3 linked regions of the Homo sapiens genome follow. The protein of the gene in region 1 purifies or fractionates together with the protein of each later gene. This does not show direct contact. Each region holds a gene or a part of one and is shown on either strand. Other genes may lie near its edges.

Evidence for each region.
Region 2: the proteins of GALM (region 1) and GALK2 fractionate together in Homo sapiens (co-fractionation; one large-scale study listed by BioGRID). This does not show direct contact.
Region 3: the proteins of GALM (region 1) and ATOX1 fractionate together in Homo sapiens (co-fractionation; one large-scale study listed by BioGRID). This does not show direct contact.

What each region holds. Positions count from the first base shown.
Region 1 is NC_000002.12:38,725,063-38,728,718, reverse strand, and holds part of GALM (galactose mutarotase), read right to left. Parts: intron 1-3,656. UniProt on the Homo sapiens protein: Mutarotase that catalyzes the interconversion of beta-D-galactose and alpha-D-galactose during galactose metabolism.
Region 2 is NC_000015.10:49,176,644-49,180,299, forward strand, and holds part of GALK2 (N-acetylgalactosamine kinase), read left to right. Parts: intron 1-3,656. UniProt on the Homo sapiens protein: Acts on GalNAc. Also acts as a galactokinase when galactose is present at high concentrations. May be involved in a salvage pathway for the reutilization of free GalNAc derived from the degradation of complex carbohydrates.
Region 3 is NC_000005.10:151,745,477-151,748,787, forward strand, and holds part of ATOX1 (copper transport protein ATOX1), read right to left. Parts: intron 974-3,311; coding exon 849-973; 3' UTR 803-848; intron 1-802. UniProt on the Homo sapiens protein: Binds and deliver cytosolic copper to the copper ATPase proteins. May be important in cellular antioxidant defense.

The sequences.
Region 1 (3,656 bases):
AGTTTTTGTTTTGTTTTGTTTTGTTTTGTTTTTTGAGATGGAGTCTTGCTCTGTCACCCAGGCTGGAGCGCAGTGGCGCGATCTCAGCTCAGTGCAACCTCCGCCTCCTGGGTTCAAGTGATTCTTCTGTCTCAGCCTCATGAGTAGCTGGGATTACAGGTGCACACCACCATGCTTTTGTATTTTTAGTAGAGACGGGGTTTCACCATGTTGGCCAGGCTGGTCGTGAACTCCTGACAGGTGATCTGCCCACCTCGGCCTCCCAAAGTGCTAGTATTATAGGCGTGAGCCACTGCACCCAGCCAAAAAAAAAGTTTTTTTTTTTTGAGACAGAGTTTTGCTCGTCGCCCAGGCTGGAGTGCAATGGCACAATCTCAGCTCACTGCCACCTCTGCCTCCCAGGTTCAAGTGATTCTCCCACCTCAGCCTCCCAAGTAGCTGGGATTACAGGCACACACCACCACGCCCAGCTAATTTTTGTATTTTTAGTAGAGATGGGGTTTCACCATGTTGGCCAGGCTAGTCTCCAACTCCTGACCTCAGGTGGTCCACCTGCCTTGGCCTCCCAAAGTGCTGGGATTACAGGTGTGAGCCACCACTCCTGGCCTAAAAAGTTTTCTTATAGTCCCAGAGCTGTCTCATATATTTTAAAGGTAAATGCAAATGTTAGGAGGTTAACATACTCTTTTAGGGTGATAATTATTTTTCCCTTTCATGTGGTCAAATGGCAATTTTAGGAACTTGGCTTCCACTGTAATCAGGGGAGAGAAGTAGCATGCAAAGTAGGGCTGAAATCTTAGGAGGCTAAGAAAAAGCAGGAACTTGTACCTTACCATTAAAATAATTTAAAAAGTAAAAGAAGAACCAATTGCCAGTCATTTAAAACATTTGGTTCTGCTTTTGTGGGTTCCTAAATGCTGAGAGAACACACAAATCTATCTGAGTAAAAGAGGACATTTCATTTATTTTTCCTTTTTCTTTTTTTTTTTTTTTTGAGACGTAGTCTCCCTCTGTTGCCTGGGCTGGAGTGCAATGGCCAGTCTAGGCTCACTGCAACCTCTGCCTCCTGGTTCAAGTGATTCTCCTGCCTCAGCCTCCCGAGGAGCTGGGACTACAGGCACGCACCATCATGCCCAGCTAATTTTTGTATTTTTAGTAGAGACGGGGTTTCACCATATTGGCCAGAGTGGTCTCGAACTCCTGACCTCGTGAACCACCTGCCTTGGCCTCCCAAAGGGCTGGGATTACAGGCGTGAACCACTGCACCCGGCCCCATTTCTTTTCTTAAACTCAGAACTGCTGTTCAGAAATGTAGTCTTCCTAGTGCCTGAAGACTGGAGTTCTGAGTTCACATACAGCCTCAGGATGCCTAGGTACGAAGCACTCAAGTGAGACACTGAGGTCCAGGCGATACCATCCTGGTGTGTGGGTGTCCACTGTTTAACCGAGAGAATCTGGGAAGTGCACAAAGGATTCCTTGCTCTTTTTTTTTTTTTTTTTCTTGAGACGGAGTCTCACTCTGTCGCCCAAGCTGGAGTGCAGTGGCTCAACCTTGGCTCACTGCAATCTCTGCCTCCTGGGTTCAAGTGATTCTCCCGCCTCAGCCTCCCAAACAGATGGGATTACAGGGGCACACCACCATGCCCAGCCAATTTTTGTATTTTTTGTAGAGACGGGGTTTCAACATGTTGGCCAGGCTGGTCTCAAACTTCTGACCTCAAGTGACCCACCCACCTTGGCCTCCCAAAGTGCTGGGATTACAGGTGTGATCTGGCCAAATTTTTAAATAGGGAATATTTGCACATGCAACCAATTTTTTTTTAAGACAGAGTTTTGCTCTTGTTGCCCAGGCTGGAGTGCAGTGGCGTGATCTCGGCTCACCACAACCTTGGCCTCCCAGGTTCAAGCGATTCTTCTGCCTCAGCCTCCCAAGTAGCTGGGATTACAGGTGCCTGCCACCACACCCAGCTAATTGTTGTATTTTTAGTAGAGATGGGCTTTCACCGTTTTGGCCAAGCTGGTCTCAGGTGATCTGCCCATCTCGGCCTCCCAAAGTGCTGGGATTATAGGCAGGAGCCACTGAGCCCGGCCGAGACTACTTCGGCTTGCATTTGTCTGGTTTACTTTTGCATTCTTATTCTGAGTCACTTGGTTTGTATACAGCATTGTGTTGGGATTAAATGTGAGAGACTTGGCCAGGCGGGGTGGCTCATGCCTGTAATCCCAGCACGTTGGCAGGCCGAGGCGGGCGGATCACGAGGTCAGGAGATCGAGACCATCCCGGCTAAAACGGTGAAAACCCGTCTCTACTAAAAATACAAAAAATTAGCCGGGCGTAGTGGCGGGCGCCTGTAGTCCCAGCTACTTGGGAGGCTGAGGCAGGAGAATGGCGTGAACCCGGGAGGCGGAGCTTGCAGTGAGCCGAGATCCCGCCACTGCACTCCAGCCTGGGCGACAGAGCGAGACTCCGTCTCAAAAAAAAAAAAAATAAAAAAAAAAAAATAAAGGCACTTTTGTTTCCCAGTAGATGGTGCTAGAGACACAATAGAAAGAGGTTGCTTTACATCCTCTAAACCCTGATCAGTTCTGGCAGAATTCATAGTTGAACTTTTTGGATCTTGAAAGCCAAAGGCCAAATCCTAGATAGCAGTGTGACCCACTTGGGTATGCTTTTGTCCTGCAATGTTTACATGATATACTACCTCCCAGACTTGCATGGTGGCTCATGCCTGTAATCCCAGAGGTTTGGGAGGCTGAGGTGGGCGGATCACTTGAGGTCAGGAGTTTGAGACCAGCCTGGGCAACATGGCGAAACCCCGTCTCTACTAAAAATACAAAAATTAGCCAGGCGTGGTGGCGCATACCTGTAATATCAGCTACTCAGTAGACTGAGGCACAAGAATCGCTTGAACCCGGGAGATGGAGGTTGTGGTGAGCCAAGATTTCACCACTGCACTCCAGACAGAGTGAGACTCTGTCTCAAAAAAACAAAACAAAACAAAACAAAAAAAAGAAAAGAAATGAAAAGAAAAAGGCAACAATAATTCTTCTTTTTCTTTTTTAAAGACAGGGTCCTGCTATGCTCAAGTGATCCTCCTGCCTCAGCCTCCTGAGTAGCTAGGACTACAGGTGTATGCCCAATTATATATATACGTGTGTGTGTGTGTGTATGTGTGTGTTTAAGAGCGAGGGTCTCGTTCTGTTACCCAGGCTGTAGTGCAGTGGCATGATCACAGCTCAATGCAGCCTCGACCTGCCAGGCTCAGGTAATCCTCCTGTCTCAGCTTCCTGAGTAGCTGGGACCCCAGGCATGTACCAGCACCCCTGGCTAATTTTTAAATTATTTGAAGAGATGGGGGTCTCACTTTGTTGCGCAGGCTGGTTTCAAACTCCTGGGCTCAAGCAATCCTCCTGCCTCAGCCTCCCAAAGTACTGGGTTTACAAGCATGAGCCACCATGCTCAGCAATTCTTCATGAAACAATTAGACTTGGAAAAAAAAGCAGGTATTCTCATGGGCTCAGGAAGATTTTAGTCTTACCAACCTATATTCTGAGTGGTAACTTATGCTTTCTTCTATAACTTTAAATGGTGTTACAATATTTAATTCTTCCTTAAAGCCACAGTCAACTCAAAATCTAACCCTTATGACAGTCCT
Region 2 (3,656 bases), on another chromosome or scaffold:
ATTTCTGGTGCTGATTACCTTCATATTCCTGGAATGAACTCTGCTTGGTCACATAGGTTATTTTAGGTAATTACTGCATTAAATTTACCGACATTTTATTTAGGGTTTTTCTATCTATTTCCACAAGTGAGATTAGCCTATAGTTTGCTTTTGAGGGCCATTCTTGTCAAATGTAAGCATCTGGGTTAGACCAGCCTCCTAAAATGAGATGGGAAACTTTCCACAGCTTCTATTATTTAGAACCATTTATAAAAAGAAAATACCACTTTTTCCTTGAAGGTCCAACCAACTTGTTGTAACACTTTTTGGGCTTTGTTTCTGACAACTTTTCTATTTCTTTATTTTTAAACTCTTGTGTCAATTTTAGAAATTTGTATTTTTTCTAGAAAAATCAGCCATTTAAAAATTTTTAAATCTTTTTAAAATTTATGTTTGTCTATTATTTCTAGTATTGATTATGTTTAATGACACTCAAAGTTCTTTTTCTATATATTTTTTTAAATTGAAGAACCACCTTGTAATTTTTTTATCCAATCTGCTATTTTCCCCTGGTTCAATAAATTTTGCTTTTATCTGTTAATTTGCTTCTTCTAATTTATTTAACTACTTTTTGCTAGGTTCCTATGTTATATGCATACTTTATTTATTTTCATTATTTATTTTCTTTTTTTCTTTTAAATAATTTATGTTAAACCTATTGTATCACACAGTATGTTTTAAACACTGCCAGATAACTCCCTAATCAGATAAAGCAAAGACAAAAAAGTTTATCTTACTAGAAACAAGAGACATCATCACTTATAGTTTTCAAACATTATTGCACTTTAACTGTCATAATTTGACAAAGAATTCATGAAATAATCTACAGACTAGTTTTAACAGACAAATAATACTTGTAAGCAGACATGACTGTCCTAAATTGTTTTTTAGGTATCAACTTTACAAACATTACTTACATTAGTGGTAACGGTGGAGTTGGAGAGTATTGTGCCTTTTCCAAGATGCACAGTGAGAATCACCAGGAGTGTGGTGGAACTTATGACCCTACCAAGGCCACGGATCTTTCGGCCTGCAGATGTCAGCCCATGCATCACCCTTTGCTTGTGGACTGGTTTGGTGATCCACTGGGTGGCAGGATTTTTTCTGACAGCATTATGGAGTGGATGAATGAGGATAACTTCAAACATTTTGTATGTTGAATCTTCACCGAAGTGAGAACTCAGGACTCTTAGCCGGGCATGGTGGCTCACACCTGTAATCCCAGCACTTTGGGAGGCCAAGTTGGGTGGATCACTTGAGGCCAGGAGTTCGAGACCAGCCTGGCCAACATGGTGAAACCGCGTTTCTACTAAACAAAAATTACAAAATTACAAAAATTAGCTGGGTGTGGTGGCGCACACCTATAATCCCAGCTACTTGGGAGGCTGAGGCATGAGAATTAGTTGAACCCAGGAGGCAGAGGTTGCAGTGAGTGAGATTGTGCCACTGCACTCCAGCCTGGGTGACAGAGCAAGACTCTGTTTCAAAAAAAAAAAAAAAAAAAAAGAAATACTATATATATATATATATATATATATATATATAGAAATAAAATGTATAAATATGTCTATATGTATAAATAAAAATATATGTACATGTATATCATATATACATGTACATATATGTATGCACATATATGTATGTACATATATACATGATGTACATGTATATCATGTATACATGTATATATATGTACATATATATATATATGTGAATTCAGGACTCTTAGAACCCCACAGTGGCGTCCAGCTTTCTCGTCTTCAATGGACTTCAAGCATACTTTAGCTGGTTAACACCACAGTGGACAGGCTTGCCATAAGCTGCACCCTTAGGAACTGGGCATTTTCGGCCACCATGGTGCACACGAATCCTATATATAACGTAAACTTGCTTGGCCTTGTAGCCCTGTCGGTGCACTTTTTTGGGCTGGGTGGGATGTGGAGCCCTGTGGTAGAGCAGAGAGCTGTCAGTACTGCTAGCAGGGACTCTCCGAAGAAAGTGCATGGTATCAGACTGCTGCTTCCTCCACAGCTCCTGAATGTACTTGTATGCAGTTATCTTGGCTTACCTGATGGCTGTTGCCAGACGGAAAGGAAAGAGCCTTTCTCCCCCATTATTTATTTTCTTATATGAATAGAAGGCTAGAAAATTTTCTGAGTGCTATTACGGTTGTGCCTCATGGGTTTTGATATGTAGACCTCTCATTATTATTTTCAAAATAGCTATAGCTGTGGCCTTAATTTCCACTTTCCTTCAGCTTCTTGCTCATTAATTTGCTCTTTAACTCTTTTCATTCTTCTATTCAACCTATCTACTATTTTTATTTTCACCATCATAACCTCGTTTTCTAAGATCTCTAATATAATTTTAATTTTGTTTTTATGTTTAATTTTTGATCTTGGAGAAATTTATTGTGATGAAAGGAACAAAACAGAGATTCAAATTCACCCTCCTTTCCCAATGGTAATTACCAATCTTTGAAATTCCATCTCTAACATATATTAAATTCTCAAATATAACAGTAATAATAGTAATAACTAATAATTATTTTATACTTATAAAACCCTCAAACAAACCTTTGCAGTGAGTTCTAGTATTAGCCTCAGTTTGTAGATGAGGAAAATTGAGGCATGGAGCAACTCATACAAATTAACATAAAAATTCATGTTATAACCAATTGTTCTTAAATTAGTATTAAAAATTAACATTTTCTATAATGCCATGACTCGATATCCTGATATTGAAGAGAAAACAAGCACAGACAGGATGGGGGACTTGCCCAAGGTCACAGTGGAAGACTGAAAATACATGTCATAGCTCCTGAAATTTTAATTCATTCATTTCTGCAGTTAGCCACACGGTCTGAGAGAATCAGTCCTTTTATTAAAGTCCATTTCATTCACAACAGTCATAGCTTTGTTTCTCAAGTTCTGTTACTAATACTGCTGTTCTTTTTTCTTTGTTTCTTTCTTTTTTTTTTTTTTTTTTAAGATTTTAAGTCAAAAGAGCATTCAGAGCACCAGAGTCAGCAATTTGTGCTGCAATACTTTGGCCAATTCCCCATTTAACAGTATGATCTTTGTAGGAGCTCTTATTTTCATATTGAAATGCTCATTGTATTTTTTGGGGGGCATACTTTCAGTGACTGCATTAAGACACAAGGTCTTGTTGGTAGCTCACCTAGAGGTAAAATACAGCTACTTCCCCCAATTACAGCCCTACCATTCATTATTAGAGGGTTAGGTATGAAGTTTAGAAAAACACTGTACACTTCAGTTCTTTCTGTTCTTAGAGAAAAATGCCTTCCTTGTTTCCTTTTATAGCCTCCATGCATTTGAATTTCTAAGGTAGGAATGTTGTATAGTAAGCCTCTTGGTACTGAAGCAGTTATAAGCCATGAACAGACTGCCTTCCCAAGGAAGTCTAGGAAAATGACAAAGTTTTATAATTCAAAATAATTTCATTAAGACACATTTTAGGAGACTTATTCTAACTCTGCTGTTAGCACTTCATGTTATTTGTGTTTGCAGTCCTTATAAAAACAAATTAATAAGGATTCAAGTTCAGGAAAACTTGAATTTCATCTGTATATGATTTTCACAGGCAGAAACATTAAC
Region 3 (3,311 bases), on another chromosome or scaffold:
CCCTGCTGAGACTGTGGCTGGATCAATGAGTAAGGTCTGCCTGGTTCCAGAGCGAAGAGTGCTGGCACAGTGCCCCTTACTGCATCACTGGATTACATAAAAGTGAAGGGAACATCTAGCTCAAACATGCTATTGTTTTTGTACCAGTCTGGACAGAGGGCATGCTCAGGAAGCTGACAACAGTTTCAAGTAGAGAGAGCGGCACAGTCTGAATTAACTCACTTGGTCAGGGCACAGGAGAACAAGGCCCAAGGCACAAGTGTCAACTCTGATGAGATAGTCAGTTTATCAAAGCCAGAGCCATGTGTGGTGATAGGTGCCTATAGTTCCAGTTACTTAGAAGGCTGAGGCAGGAGCATCACTTGAGCCCAGGAGTTAAAGGCTATAGTGCACTATGATCACACCTATGAAGAGTTACTACCCTCCAGCCTGGGCCATATAGTGAAACACTGTCTCAAACCAATGAACAAATAAAGAAGTCAAAGGTGCACTGCTTAGGGTCACATACTGTAAACTTAAACCCTGCTAACCATGAACTGCAACCCTCAAGTCTGAAAGAGGACTCTGGGAGACATTACACAGTGCTCTGTCCACTCACAGGGTCTGTAAGAATTCCCTGAACTTGTGATTTGCATTAGACAATAATAAAATATTTGTAACCACTCCAAAGAAGGTGGACAGTGGATTGAAAAGAACCCAGAGGGCTCTCCCGCTCCACTCAAGCTCTCAAAGGCCAAGGTGTTCGCTCTGATGAGAGGTGTGAGCTGTAGGTTTGTTCAGCAAGTGCTGGGGCCTTACCCACCTGCCCCCTTTGGTCCATCCTGTGGGCTGTGGGGACCAGGCCCCTGCTACTCAAGGCCAAGGTAGGAAACAGTCTTTCCTGTTTTCTTCAGGGTTGCAAGCAGAGTGTCCATGCTGTGCTCAGATTCAATGCAGACCTTCTTGTTGGGCAGGTCAATGTCATACTTAACTCCTGCAGGAAGAGGAAATGGGGTATGGGGAGAGGAAGCACAGACCCTCCCAGTTACAGCAAGAAAGAGTTCAGGCTCTAAATTACTACTCACAACCACCCTTGCCCTTTCCTCTAGAGCAGGGATCGGCAAACTTCTTCTGTAACAGGCCAGAAAGCAAATGTTTTAGGCATTGTGGGTCACATATAGACTCTGTTGTATATTCTGTGTATTTTTTTTATAACTCTATTCCTGAACATACAAAAACAGGCTGTGAGCAGGATTTGGCCCATGTGCTGATCTCTGTTCTATACTAGGGCTTTCTGAGACAGAGACGCACTCTGTTGCCCAGGCTGGAGTGCAGTGGCATGATCTCAGCTCACTGCAACCTCCACCTCCTGGGTTCAAGTGATTGTCATGCCTCAGCCTTTGGAGCAGCTGGGATTACAGGCGTATGCCACCACACCTGGTTAATTTTTGTATTTTTAGTAGAGACAGGGTTTTGTCATGTTGCCCAGGCTGGTCTCAAACTCCTAATCTCAAGTGATCTGCCCGCCTTGGCCTCCCAAAGTGCTGGGAGTATAGGCATGAGCCACCGTGCCCAGCCACCTTTTTTTTTTAATTGCAAAAGTAATATAGACACTTTTTTTTTTTTTTTCAAAAAAGCAAACATTTCTAAATAAAAGTAGAAGCAGTAAGGCCCCCTACTGATCCTGCCCCTAGAGATCACTGTGAACAGTCTGGCTTCTATCTAGACTTTGTCCTAGATAGACAAATGAAAAATAATTCCTCCAAATCGCATCACACTATATAAACAGGTCTTGCTAATATTTTACTTTTCTCTTTATTTATTCATTTTTATTTATTTATTTATTTAGAGACAGGGTCTCACTGTGTTATACAGGCTGGAGTGCAGTGGCACAATCACAAATCACTGTATCCTTGAATACCTGGGCTCAGGTGATCCTCCCTTCTCAGCCTCCCAAGTTGTTGTGACTACAGGCACATGCCACTATGCCTGGTTAAGTTTTGTATTTTATGTAGAGACAGGGTTTCGCATATTGCCCAGGCTGGTCTTGAACTTCTAGGCTCAAGCGATCCGCCTGCCTTGGCTTCCCAAAGTGCTGGGACTACAGGTGTGAGCCACTGCACCCGGTCCATTCTTTTTTTTTTTTTTTGACACAGAGTCTCGCTGTGTCACCCAGGCTGGAGTGCAGTGGCACAATCTCAGCTCATTGTAGCCTGACTCCCGGGTTCAAGCGATTCTTCTGCCTCAGCCAGCCTCCCGAGTGGCTGGGATTACAGGCATGAGCCACCACACTGAGCTAATTTTTGTATTTTTAGTAGAGATGGGGTTTCGCCATGTTGGCCAGGTTGGTCTTGAATTCCTGATCTCAGGTGATCCACCTGCATTGGCCTCCCAAAGTGTTGGGACTATAGGCGTGAGCCACAGTGCCCGGCCCTATTCTTTTTTTAAAAGCTACAATCTTCCACAGTGTGGACGTACCACACATCCACTTAATTAATCCACTGTTAAAGGTCATTGAGGATGCTTCTAATTTTTCACCACTATCACAATGTTATAGTAAACATATTTGAACTTGTCTTAAAACACTTATAAAAATATTGTTATACCATGAATTCACAGAATGGAAATTGTGGGGCAACAGATATTTGGCACATTTTGAATGTTTAATAGACATTGCAAAATCGCCCTCCTAAATGGCTATGCCAATTTACAGCTCCCCAGCAGCACATGGGAGGACCCAGAGTTTTACTCTGACAAAAGAGTGCAAAAAGAAAGGAAAACTCTTGATAGGTTCTAGGCCTGGCCTCACCATTGACTTGCTGGGTGACCATGGGCAGGGAGTCGGTGGGAGGAGGGTCCTGCTTCTCACAGGCCTCAGCTACCTCATCTGTACATGAAGGAGTCAGGGCTGGCCAGCTCCTGTGGCCTTTCCAGCTCAAGGATGCCATCAGTCTGTGATTCCTCAGCCCTACCACTGTTCTTTTAGGGCCATAAGCAACTCAAAAAACCCTCCTGACCCTTCTCAAGAGGCCACCCAAGCAGGGACAGTAGGAAAAGATGGGCAGAAACCTGCCGAAGCTTAAAGGCAGATCTTCCAGCAAGGGGCCTTAAAAATCATATGGTTGGCCAGGCGTGGTGGCTCATGTCTGTAATCCCAGCACTTTGGGAGGCTGAGGCGAGTGGATCACTTGAGGTCAGAAGTTCAAGACCAGCCTGGCTAACGTGGTGAAACCCCATCTCTACTAAAAATACAAAAATTAGCTCAGTGTGTGGCATGTGCCTGTAATCCCAGCTTCTCGGGAGGCTGGGGCAGGAGAATCACTTGAACCTGG